Linked DNA regions of Homo sapiens: region 1 is linked to region 2. Evidence: fine-mapped expression QTL. A gene starts in region 2. The other region holds a variant in brackets. All regions are shown on one strand. Distances are from middle to middle.

What was found. PIP is the estimated chance that this variant, and not a neighbour inherited with it, causes the effect. A credible set is the group of variants that fine-mapping cannot tell apart.
Region 1: its variant is the best candidate, but not a certain one, in a credible set for the expression of INO80B in whole blood (TOPMed, PIP 0.78).

The regions. Positions count from the first base shown.
Region 1 is chr2:74,409,274-74,414,496 of GRCh38, forward strand. It overlaps C2orf81 (chromosome 2 open reading frame 81), which reads right to left. Exons shown (of 3, transcript NM_001316764.3): 3 at 4,904-5,223. The coding sequence ends at 5,056. Among named protein-coding and RNA genes, the nearest start is that of C2orf81, 9.7 kb to the right of the region's middle. The variant T/C (reference allele first, on the strand shown) is at 3,237.
Region 2 is chr2:74,452,900-74,458,383 of GRCh38, forward strand. INO80B (INO80 complex subunit B) reads left to right here and starts at 2,188. Exons shown (of 5, transcript NM_031288.4): 1 at 2,188-2,275; 2 at 2,507-2,699; 3 at 2,919-3,037; 4 at 3,204-3,373; 5 at 4,435-5,045. The coding sequence starts at 2,218. The coding sequence ends at 4,965. It overlaps INO80B-WBP1 (INO80B-WBP1 readthrough (NMD candidate)), which reads left to right and starts at 2,124. Exons shown (of 8, transcript NR_037849.1): 1 at 2,124-2,275; 2 at 2,507-2,699; 3 at 2,919-3,037; 4 at 3,204-3,373; 5 at 4,435-4,961. RefSeq lists enhancers at 1,702-2,291, 4,342-4,411, 4,910-5,416, 5,042-5,191, 5,417-5,484 and a silencer at 4,552-4,791.

The DNA.
Region 1 (5,223 bases), 44 kb before region 2:
TCCTTCATTTATCCATCCCACAAATGTTCATTAGGCACCTGGAATATGGCAGACACTAAGCTAGGTGCTAAGGACATAACGGTGCTAGGTTTGGGGGAAAAGAAATATGTGTGCAGAGATACTTGAGAAAATGTTTTTAAAGAAACAAAGCTAGGGAAGGTCATCACTGGAAAACTATTAACAAGCTTAATATTTAAAAAAAAAAAAACCAACTATGTTTCAAACAAAAACAAAATTAAAATCCTAAAGTTAAATCTTAAAAAAAATGTTTAAAATAGTACATAAGTGTTTTAGTCTGTTCTCACACCACTATTAAGATGCTACCTGAGACTGGGTAATTTATAAACAAAAGTGGTTTAATTGACTCACAACTCTGCATGGCTGGGGAGACCTCGGGAAACTTATAATCATGGTGGAAGACAAAGGGGAAGCAAGGCATGTCTTACGTGGTGGCAGAAGAGACAGAGAGCAGGCAGGGGAAAACTGCCACTTTTTATTTATTTTTTATTTTTTATTTTTTTTGAGTCGGAGTCTTGCTCTGTCGCCCAGGCTGGAGTGCAGTGGCGCGATCTCGGCTCACTGCAAGCTCCGCCTCCTGGGTTCACGCCATTCTCCTGCCTCAGCCTCCCGAGTAGCTGGGACTACAAGCGCCCGCCACCACGCCTGGCTAATTTTTTTTTTTGTATTTTTAGTAGAAACGGGGTTTCACCGTGTTAGCCAGGATGGTCTCCATCTCCTGACCTCGTGATCCACCCACCTCGGCCTCCCAAAGTGCTGGGATTACAGGCGTGAGCCACCGCACCAGGTCAAAACTGCCACTTTTAAAACCATCAAATCTTGTGAGATCTCTCTCAATATCACAAGAACAGCACGGGGGAACTGCCCCCATGACCCAATCACTTCCCACCAGGTCCCTCCCTCTACATATGGGGATTACAGCTGGAGATGAGATTTGGGTGGGGACACAGAGCCAAACCATATCAATAAGTATACAAAAAAGTCTGGATTGGCTGGGTGTGGTGGCTGATGCCTGTAATCCCAGCACTTTGGGAGGCCAAGGCGAGAGTTTGAGGCCAAGGTGGGAGGCCTGAGGTCAGGAGTTTGAGACCAGCCTGCCCAACATGGCAAAACCCCGTATCTAGCAAAAATACAAAAAATTAGCCAGGCATGGTGTTGGGCACCTGTAATCCCAGCTACTCGGGAGGGTGAAGCAGGAGAATCGCTTGAACCCAAGAGGCGGAGGTTGCAGTGAGCCGAGATCGCGCCACTGTACTCCAACCTGGTAAACAAGAGCGAAACTCCGTCTCCAAAAAAAAAAAAAAAAAAAAAAAAGTCTGGATTATGTAAAGTATAAAAAATAGTTGTTGTCACATATGAGTTTACAGTATTGTTTTTAAAATGCTAAAACTATTTTGAAATTAAGACTCACTCAGTGGGAGGCCAGCCTGCTGCATGGACTGCTTCCAGCACTGCTCCTTCTCTCCCCAGAAAAAAAAATTAATACAAAATAAAATTTAAAAATTACAAATTACAAATGAGAAACTGAGCAGGTGGTATTTAGCCAAAATTTGCTGGAAAGAAAATTATTCTTAAAGAAGACAATGGACTTTAAATTTGCAGACAGTGACATAGAGACCAAAAGTGTTCTCTGCTCAGTTGGAGAGACTGATCCTCACAGAGCAACATCAGTGCAGTCACAGAGATATGTACAAGGGGGCTAATGGAGCCCCATAAATAGGGGTGACTGGGGGAGGTGAAGGTTGGGGAAAGATCCACAGCAGAGGTGATATCTGTGCTGCGTCTTGGCAGGTGAACTAAAGTTAGCCAGGCCAACATGATGAGAAAGGATATTCCAGATAGAAGGAACCGTATGTGCAAAAACACAGCCAGAGGGTGAAAAAAAACAGACCGTGGTCCAAGAGCTGCAGATTGTCTGGCTGGAGACTAGGAGGTGGGTTAAGGAAGGGCAAAAGGCAAGGCTCTTAGTCAGCAGAGGGTTTTTTTTTTTTTTTTGAGACAGAGTTTCACTCTTGTTGCCCAGGCTGGAGTGCAATGGCGCGGTCTTGGCTCACTGAAACCTCCACCTCTCGGGTTCAAGCAATTCTCCTGCCTCAGCCTCCCGAGTAGCTAGGATTACAGGCATGCACCACCACGCCCAGCTAATTTTGTATTTTTAGTAGAGACGGGGTTTCTCCATGTTGATCAGGCCGGTCTCAAACTCCCAACCTCAGGTGATTTGCCCACCTCAGCCTCTCAAAGTGCTGGGATTACAGGCATGAGCTACTGCACCCAGCCTAGCACACAGCCTTCTAAGTGTAGAGAAGGGGCTTAGAGTTCATCCTACAAAGGAGAGGTTACCTTCAAAGGATTTTAAGCAAGAAAGTGTCATGATGAAAGGTGATTACTCGATGTGGCAGTGGGGAGAATAGATTAGAGAAGATGAGACAGGAAAGAAGTTTAAGAAACTGTCACTAAGCAAGATGCAGATAGTGTCGTGACATGTTACAATTTGTGGAAAGGGACAAAAACAATCATACTTGCAGGTGCATAGAGTTTTGCCTTTGTTCACTTTCCAATTGGGATTAATTTAGTTGACTGCTAAAGGATACGTGAGACTCCGGCAACAGTAGTTGCCTCTCAGGAGGGGAACAGGTGGCTTATGTACCAGAAGAGAAAAATAGTTTAAAAAAAAAAACCCTCTGTATCCTTTTGTACACTTTCAATTTTGTACTTTGGATATGTATTACCTGACCAAAAGAAAAATTGCTTTTCTTTTAAGGAGGCTATCACATTGCAAGGGGATGAGTAATTAAAAAATAATAATAATAATAAAGGGGCTATTATACAATCTAGGAGAAAATGTCAGAGAGAATGTTCCTGCCACCCACTCCCCGAAACTTTCCCTGGAGGAGCCAAACTTTCTCAATCAGAAAGGGCCTCTTCAAAGGACTTAGGCCCAAGGCAGTAATGTATCAACTGTATCATCTGTATGGCCTACACCTCTGGCCGACCCTGAGAACAGAAACTGAGTCTTCTTGCTTTCTCTGTTTCTGGTGCCTAGTGTCCCCCTCAAGAAGCCTTCATTGCAAAAACTACTCTACTGGTCTGGCTAGAACTAGGGGATGGGAGAAGGAGGTCTGGGATCTCATATCCCCTTGCTGATTATATTTTGGGCTGAATGATTCTTCTATCAGCCTTCTAATACTGACTTGTGCCAGCTGGGCTTCCCTGATGTG[T/C]GACACAAAAAGTGTGTTGGGTCACCACTCAGCAAACAGCTGGGTGCCAAGAGGCAAGAGGTGGTCCTGGGAGACAGTTACTAGAATGCCAGGGGTATAGGGAAGAGGGCAGCACAGAAGGTGCCCATCCTTCCTTACCTTGGAGTAGATTTGTGAGCAGAAAGGGCCCAACATAGTTAGTGACAAAGGTGAGATCCAGGCCCCCTGGGGTAAGTGTCTTCGGAATCCTGGGAGGAAATGAAAACACTGGCATTGAGTGATAAAGGGACCACCTTGAGGGAGACAAGGTCTGGGAGGGACATATTACCTTCAGCAGAAATGCCACAGGGGCACATACATGTGAAGATGGGGGCAATGAAGTTTAAGGCTATAACTCAATGTCAGCTTTTTAGGGGAGGGTATGGATTAGTGTTTTGGCAAGATTGCATAGACTAGGCTTTGAGGATACCTGTTTTAGAGTTCCTGAGCTAGAAAGGAGACTGCAGAAACATGTTTGGAGAAGCAAGCCAGGCACATACCACTGACTCCAGCATTGTTTACCAGCAGATGTATCTCAGGATTCTCCTGTAGAAGCCTCCGGGCAAAGCTCCGAATAGAGGTCATGGAGCTAAGGTCCACCTCGCCAAGCAGGAGGCGGTTGCTGTTTGAGGCTGCTTGGATCTCAGCCAGGGCTTGCTGTCCACATTCCCTGCTCTGACAAGTAAGGATCACTTGGGCCCCACACCGAGCTAGGTCCTGGGATACAACCTTCCCGATGCCTGTGGGAGGACAACTTCGGCTGGGTGGTGACTACAGTGAACAAGGGACACTCTAGGGGAGGGACAAGGGTGTTGATAGTGGATGCTCCTCCCTGCCTTCCCTGTGAGAGTTGTTGGAGGCTGAGGCCCATAGTGAGGATTCAGGGTGGGAGGAGCACTCACCACTGTTGGCCCCAGTCACTATGGCTATTTTCCCAGTCAGATCTGTGGAGCAGCACTGGAGGTCCCAGGGATGAGACTTCTGCCAGAGCTGCACATGTAGTTGAAGAAGACCAGAATAAGGAAGACAGAGCCAGCGCCCCAGACCAGGATGCTGAGTGCAGCCCACAGCAACATAGCAGAAACTTCCTGGGCCTGCTGGGGAAATGCTGTAGGAGGAAGTGGGTGCAGGATAAATCTGGGCAGAGTGGAGACTAGCAATGAGGCAGGTGTGGAGCCTAAGATAAAATTTAAGGAGGCACTGACTCTTGAGTTTGTTCAATATACTGTTTGAGTTTGAGAGTTCCTCCTTAACTTCAAAAGTGAAATTTGGATTTGCAGTCTAAGGTGAAGTGACCAAGCTCCAGGGACCAGGGAAGCAAGAAATCAAGTTCTTCATATCTCGAATCACTCTGTGCTTATGCGGGGCCTTCTCCTTCCTCCCCTACTGAAAGGAGACTCGAAGTTCTCTCTACAGAGCCAGACCCGCTGGCAGCCCTTATGTCTACTCCTTTGGGGGACAGGGGTTTCTCTAGAATGCCTCTGCAATGGGGCAGCTTTGGCCCTAATGCAGGGTCTCCTAAGGGTGGCGAGAGGGTTATTTCCTGAACCCTGGTTCTATCTTCTTCTAGGCCTGCAGGATAACTGCTCCCCTTGGGGTTCAGTGAGAGGGTGGACACCCTTGGAAGAAACTGACAAGAGACATCAGACTAGTTCCTAAGGCAACTCAGGTGTTTATTTCTGGCTAGCAGAGGGAGGGACCAGTTACTACTGCCAGAGGCTCAGGGATCAGAGGGAGGCAGCAGGCTTAGAGGAGCGTGACCACACTTTGGGGGCTGAGTTCTTCATTAGCTGTGCTACGGTCACCTGGGCTTTGGGGCACCTGTCTGGATGGGATGTTGCTCAACGGGAGGAAAGGTGCTACCTTCTTTGTCCTCTTGTTCAGGCACACCAGAGCTGAGCAACACCTGGGTGCTCCGGTTCCACATGCTCACACCAGGGGCCAGCTTCAGGGCTTCTGGCAGCAACAC
Region 2 (5,484 bases):
GTAACTCCTGGTGATAAAAGAGTATTGCCTTCACACTGTGATAAAATCCATCCTCTTCTTGGAGCTCAGCCTACCCTCTGAAGGACTGTACCCAGCTGATCACAGCCTTAGTCCCTTGATACTTTCTGCCTTTCCTGACCTTCTCAACCCTGTCTGGCCCCTCTGCCTGGCTGTGCAGGACAGGTGCTCACTTGGTTCTGTTCCTGGTTCTTTTCCTCTTATCTACTTACTCTTTCTGGGTGTCTCATCTACTCCCATCACTTGGGGGCCTCCAGTATTACGCTGATGACATCCCCACTCACACTTTCATCCTTGGTTTCTCCTCTCAGCTATTCCACCTCCACCCAGGCATTCCCACAGGCACTTCAAAGTCGCCTTGGGCAAAACTAAATAATTCCCTTCTTAACTTGCTTCTCTTCCTATGTTATCTTCCTTACTGAAAATACCACCTTCCCGCTAAATACTTAGGCTAGAAACCTATGAGTCAGTTATTATTATTTGCTTACTGAAGCATCTACTATGTGCCTGTGCCTGTGCCTGCTGCCACCCTAAGTATCATGAGTTCTTGATTTCCTTTATTCCTTGAAAGAGCCCTCATAGCGGTGGATCCTACTGTATTCCATCTTATAGAGCTGGATTCTCAGGTTCAGAGAGCTTAAATAATTTTAGGCCCAAGGTTGCATAGCTAATAAATGGTGAAACTGGGATTTGATAATAGGCTTGTCTGACTCCAAAATCCCTTTTCATAATCACATACTACATGACTTAATCCTGGATTCCCCAATATAATTGCTCATTGATTCTTGATAATTTTATCACTGAAATGTAAGAGACTTTTCACTGCTGTTACCTTGCTCAGACACTCATATATATTTAGATATATGTATATAGGTGTTATTTTCTAATTATAAACGTGATATATATTGGCTGTAAGAAAATACATTACATACCTAAATAGTGAAAGTTCCTCAACCCCAACTTCTACAGTTAACCAACATTAACAGGTATACATTCCTCAATTTTTTCTATGTATTTGCTAGTATATTATGCTTTTAAAAATCAGATCACATAATCTTGAAATTTACTTTTTTTTTTTTTTCTTTTTTTTGAGACGGAGTCCCGCTCTGTCGACCAGGCTGGAGTGCAGTGGCGCGATCTCGGCTCACTGCGACCTCCACCTCCCGGGTTCAAGCGATTCTCCTGCCTCAGCCTCCCGAGTAGCTGGGACTACAGGCGCGTGCCATCACGCCGGCTAATTTTTTTTTTTTTTTTTGTATTTTTAGTAGAGACGGGGTTTCATCGTATTAGCCAGGATGGGAAATTTACTTTTCTTATTTCGTGTATCAGCACATACAAACCTACCTGTTTTTATGTCTTTTTTAAAATGAGGTAAAATATACACGTTTTATACAAAATTCAAAAGGCACAAGAGGGTATAATCATAAAAAAATAGGTCGCCATCCACCCTTGTTCTCTAGATGCTCATCAGCAAATGACTCTTACCAATTTCCTAGATAGCCTTCTGGGGCGCCTCATTTCTTTTCCAAGCTGCTTAACATCCCACTGTATGGATACACCAATTCATCAGGACACTTAGATTGTTTAAATTCTGTGTCAATCTCATTAATTACTTACAACTCAACTTTTCTTAGCAATATGGTGTTCCGCATTGTACAGCTGCACCGTAATTCATTTATTCATTTCCCTACTTATGAAAATTGAAGTTTAAATACCTAAACTGCATCTGCTCTTAGGGCACTCGTGCTGTTTAACCATTTCGGCCATTTTGTCATCAATATAGTTTATGTATTCCTCCACCCAACTGTGAGTTCCTCAAGGACAGGGGCGGTGTTCATATTCATCTTTGCATCCTCTTAGACTAGCTTCCCGCACTTGGTCTAGTGTATACATTCACCAAACTTGTGTTCAATAATTGACTCATCCGCGCTGAGTTCTGAAAGCTAGCGTGGGGAGGCGGAGCCAGGGGAAAGCCCTGCCCATTTGGGCTGTCCCGACCTCAGAGGGACCGGAACGTTCGTTGGAAGGATCCTCGTTTCTCAGGGACGATTTTGGACGCGAAGCGTGCCCCGCACAAGGATGGTTGCCATGAACCGGAAGTAACTGGTTGTTTTGCTGGCTCCAGTTTTTCCGCGGGGCGGAAAAGGCGTGTCTGCGTGTGTCCCAACCATTTCTAGTCCCCTTTCCTCGCAGGACCTCATGAGTAAGCTGTGGCGGCGTGGGAGCACCTCTGGGGCTATGGAGGCCCCTGAGCCGGGTAAGCGCGAATAGATCAAGCAATTTAGGTCGTGTTAGAAAAGAAGTCCCGTTCTTGCTCCTCGGAGAGTCCAGGGTACTTCGGCCACAGGTGGCAAGGAGAAAGGCGGTGCTGTTGTTATGGTAACAGCGAGTACTGCGGGAAGGGTGGGATCCAGTAGGGGCTTAGGTTATTCAGGGCTTCCCCTGCCACCCTCCGGCCAAACACTGTCGACAGGCTTTCCTTCCACAGGAGAAGCCCTGGAGTTGAGCCTGGCGGGTGCCCATGGCCATGGAGTGCACAAGAAAAAACACAAGAAGCACAAGAAGAAACACAAGAAGAAACACCATCAGGAAGAAGACGCCGGGCCCACGCAGCCGTCCCCTGCCAAGCCTCAGCTCAAACTCAAAATCAAGCTTGGGGGACAAGTCCTGGGGACCAAGAGGTGAGGCCAAGAGGGTCATAGTTTTATAAGGGGAACTTTAGGAGCAGAGATAGTAGTTAGAAGCCGACTGGGCTTTCTAGAAGACCGAATGGACACTGTGACTTCAGGGTCCAGATTTAGGCAGCAAGAGTCTAAGAGGGTGGGGAAAGTTGGGTGTAGCTACGGAGTAGGAGGAGGAGACGCTTGCTCATTTTAAAGAGTAGTGTTGCTTCTCTGCAGTGTTCCTACCTTCACTGTGATCCCAGAGGGGCCTCGCTCACCCTCTCCCCTTATGGTTGTGGATAATGAAGAGGAACCTATGGAAGGAGTCCCCCTTGAGCAGTACCGTGCCTGGCTGGGTGAGGATCTGGAGGTGGGGAAACTGGGTTTCTTATTATACCCGCCTAAAGAAAGAAGGTTGGTTCTGAAATGGGTTAGGATTTTCCATGTCCCAGTATTAACTCAGCCAAATTAGGGTGCCCCATCTGAACAATTCTGTTTTTCTTTCTCCAACTTCCTTCCCAGATGAAGACAGTAATCTCTCTCCCTCTCCACTTCGGGACCTATCAGGAGGGTTAGGGGGTCAGGAGGAAGAGGAGGAACAGAGGTGGCTGGATGCCCTGGAGAAGGGGGAGCTGGATGACAATGGAGACCTCAAGAAGGAGATCAATGAGCGGCTGCTTACTGCTCGACAGGTATGTTGGTTCATTGTTTATTCACTCACCAAATGTATACAGTATTGAGAACTCTCCACGACCCACGCACTTTGCGTGGCATTGGGGATATCGATAGTAGAGAAAAGACAAAGTTTCTGTTCTCCTGGAGCTAGTATTCTAGTGTGTGTGTTGGGGGGCTGGGAAGTAAATAAGTAAATAATTTCAAAAAGCTATATGGTTTATGACAAAAAGAAAAGGGTGATGAAATAGAAAGTGGCGTAAACAAACAGATAGAAATGATGGAAGAGAGACATTAGGGTAGTTAGAGAAGGCTTCTTTGAAGAGATAACATTTGCAATACCAGAAGAGCTTTTGAGCAGAGACCAGCAGGCGCACAGACCTTGAGACTGGAACATGTCTAGCAAAGGAGAAGAAAAAGTGGACAAGCCACTGAAGGGCTGTACGCAGAGAAGTGACATACTTGGTTTACATTTCAATAGATTACTTTGGCATCTTTGTAGAGAATGAATCTTCGTGGAGACAAGAGATAGAAGTATGGAGAACAACTAGGAAGCTGTTGAAGTAATCAGCTGAGAGGCAGTGGTTGCTTTAACCAAGACGAAAGTGGTGGAGATGGAGAAAATCAGATGAATTATGGCTATATTTTGGAAGTAGATACTTGTGGGGAGGGGAATGGAGAGAAAATATATCAAGGCTAAGCCTGGGATTTTGGCTTGAGCAGTTATCCACCTGATACTCTCTATTGAGATAAGATTAAAAATAACAACAGACCTCTGGGAAAGCTGGTACAGTTTTGGTGCACAGGTCAGGCAGGTAACATTACTGATGCTTCTCCCCTTGAGAGATAAGGACCTAAAGCTAAATGTCAGGAGATCTGGGAGGAGGCAGTATTTATGAAGAGGAACCTATGGAAGGTGTCCTGGAGAGGGTGCTCATTAATTAATATCCCGCCTCCGAAGGCCTGCACTGCTCAAGACCCTGCCTTCCATGTCCCTTCTTTCCCCTCCCCCGATCTGGCCGACCTCGCCTCTCCATCTTCCTCCATTTTCAGACAGCACCCCGTCTCTGTCTCTCCCTAGCGAGCTCTGCTCCAGAAGGCGCGGAGTCAACCTTCCCCTATGCTGCCGCTGCCTGTAGCTGAGGGCTGCCCACCTCCCGCCCTCACAGAGGAGATGCTGCTGAAGCGCGAGGAGCGGGCGCGGAAGCGGCGGCTCCAGGCGGCGCGGCGGGCAGAAGAGCACAAGAACCAGACTATCGAGCGCCTCACCAAGACTGCGGCGACCAGTGGGCGGGGAGGCCGGGGGGGCGCACGGGGCGAGCGGCGGGGAGGGCGGGCTGCGGCTCCGGCCCCCATGGTGCGCTACTGCAGCGGAGCACAGGGTTCCACCCTTTCCTTCCCACCTGGCGTCCCCGCCCCCACGGCAGTGTCTCAGCGGCCATCCCCCTCAGGCCCGCCGCCGCGCTGCTCTGTCCCCGGCTGTCCCCATCCGCGCCGCTACGCTTGCTCCCGCACAGGCCAGGCACTCTGTAGTCTTCAGTGCTACCGCATCAACCTGCAGATGCGGCTGGGGGGGCCCGAGGGTCCTGGATCCCCCCTTTTGGCTACGTAAGGCCCTTAACCCGGACTCTGCGCCCCGTCCCATGCCCGCTCTTGAGTATCTTCCCCACCCTATTAAATTACATCCGGTGCTTCGGCTTGTACAGAACTGGGGGAGTGGGATGTTGTGGGCAGACCAGTCTCCGGTATACACGTATTTTGCCCCTGTCGGAGCTTGCGTCGATGCCTGGGGCTTGGAAACCACCGCAAAAAACCAGGCTGCAAACCAGCGGACCGACTTTTGGGACTCCGCCTCTTCCAGCCGGGATTACCTGGCGTGCTTCGGCCTTTGGCGTCATTCCGAAAACATACCGCAAGCCAATCAGCGGCAACCTTGCTCTTCGGGGCGGCTGTTCGTTGGTTGATATGCCAGAGCCTGTTCTGTTGTCTGTATTGGCTATTGCCGCTGTCAGTCAGGGCCGTGGGTCGAACCTTCACCTACTCTTTGTCTGTACAAGCTCTTGTTGTCTGGGTGAGCGGCGGAGGCGCTGCTGTGGATTGGTCACAGGGAGAAACCTCTGATCTGTTCCTA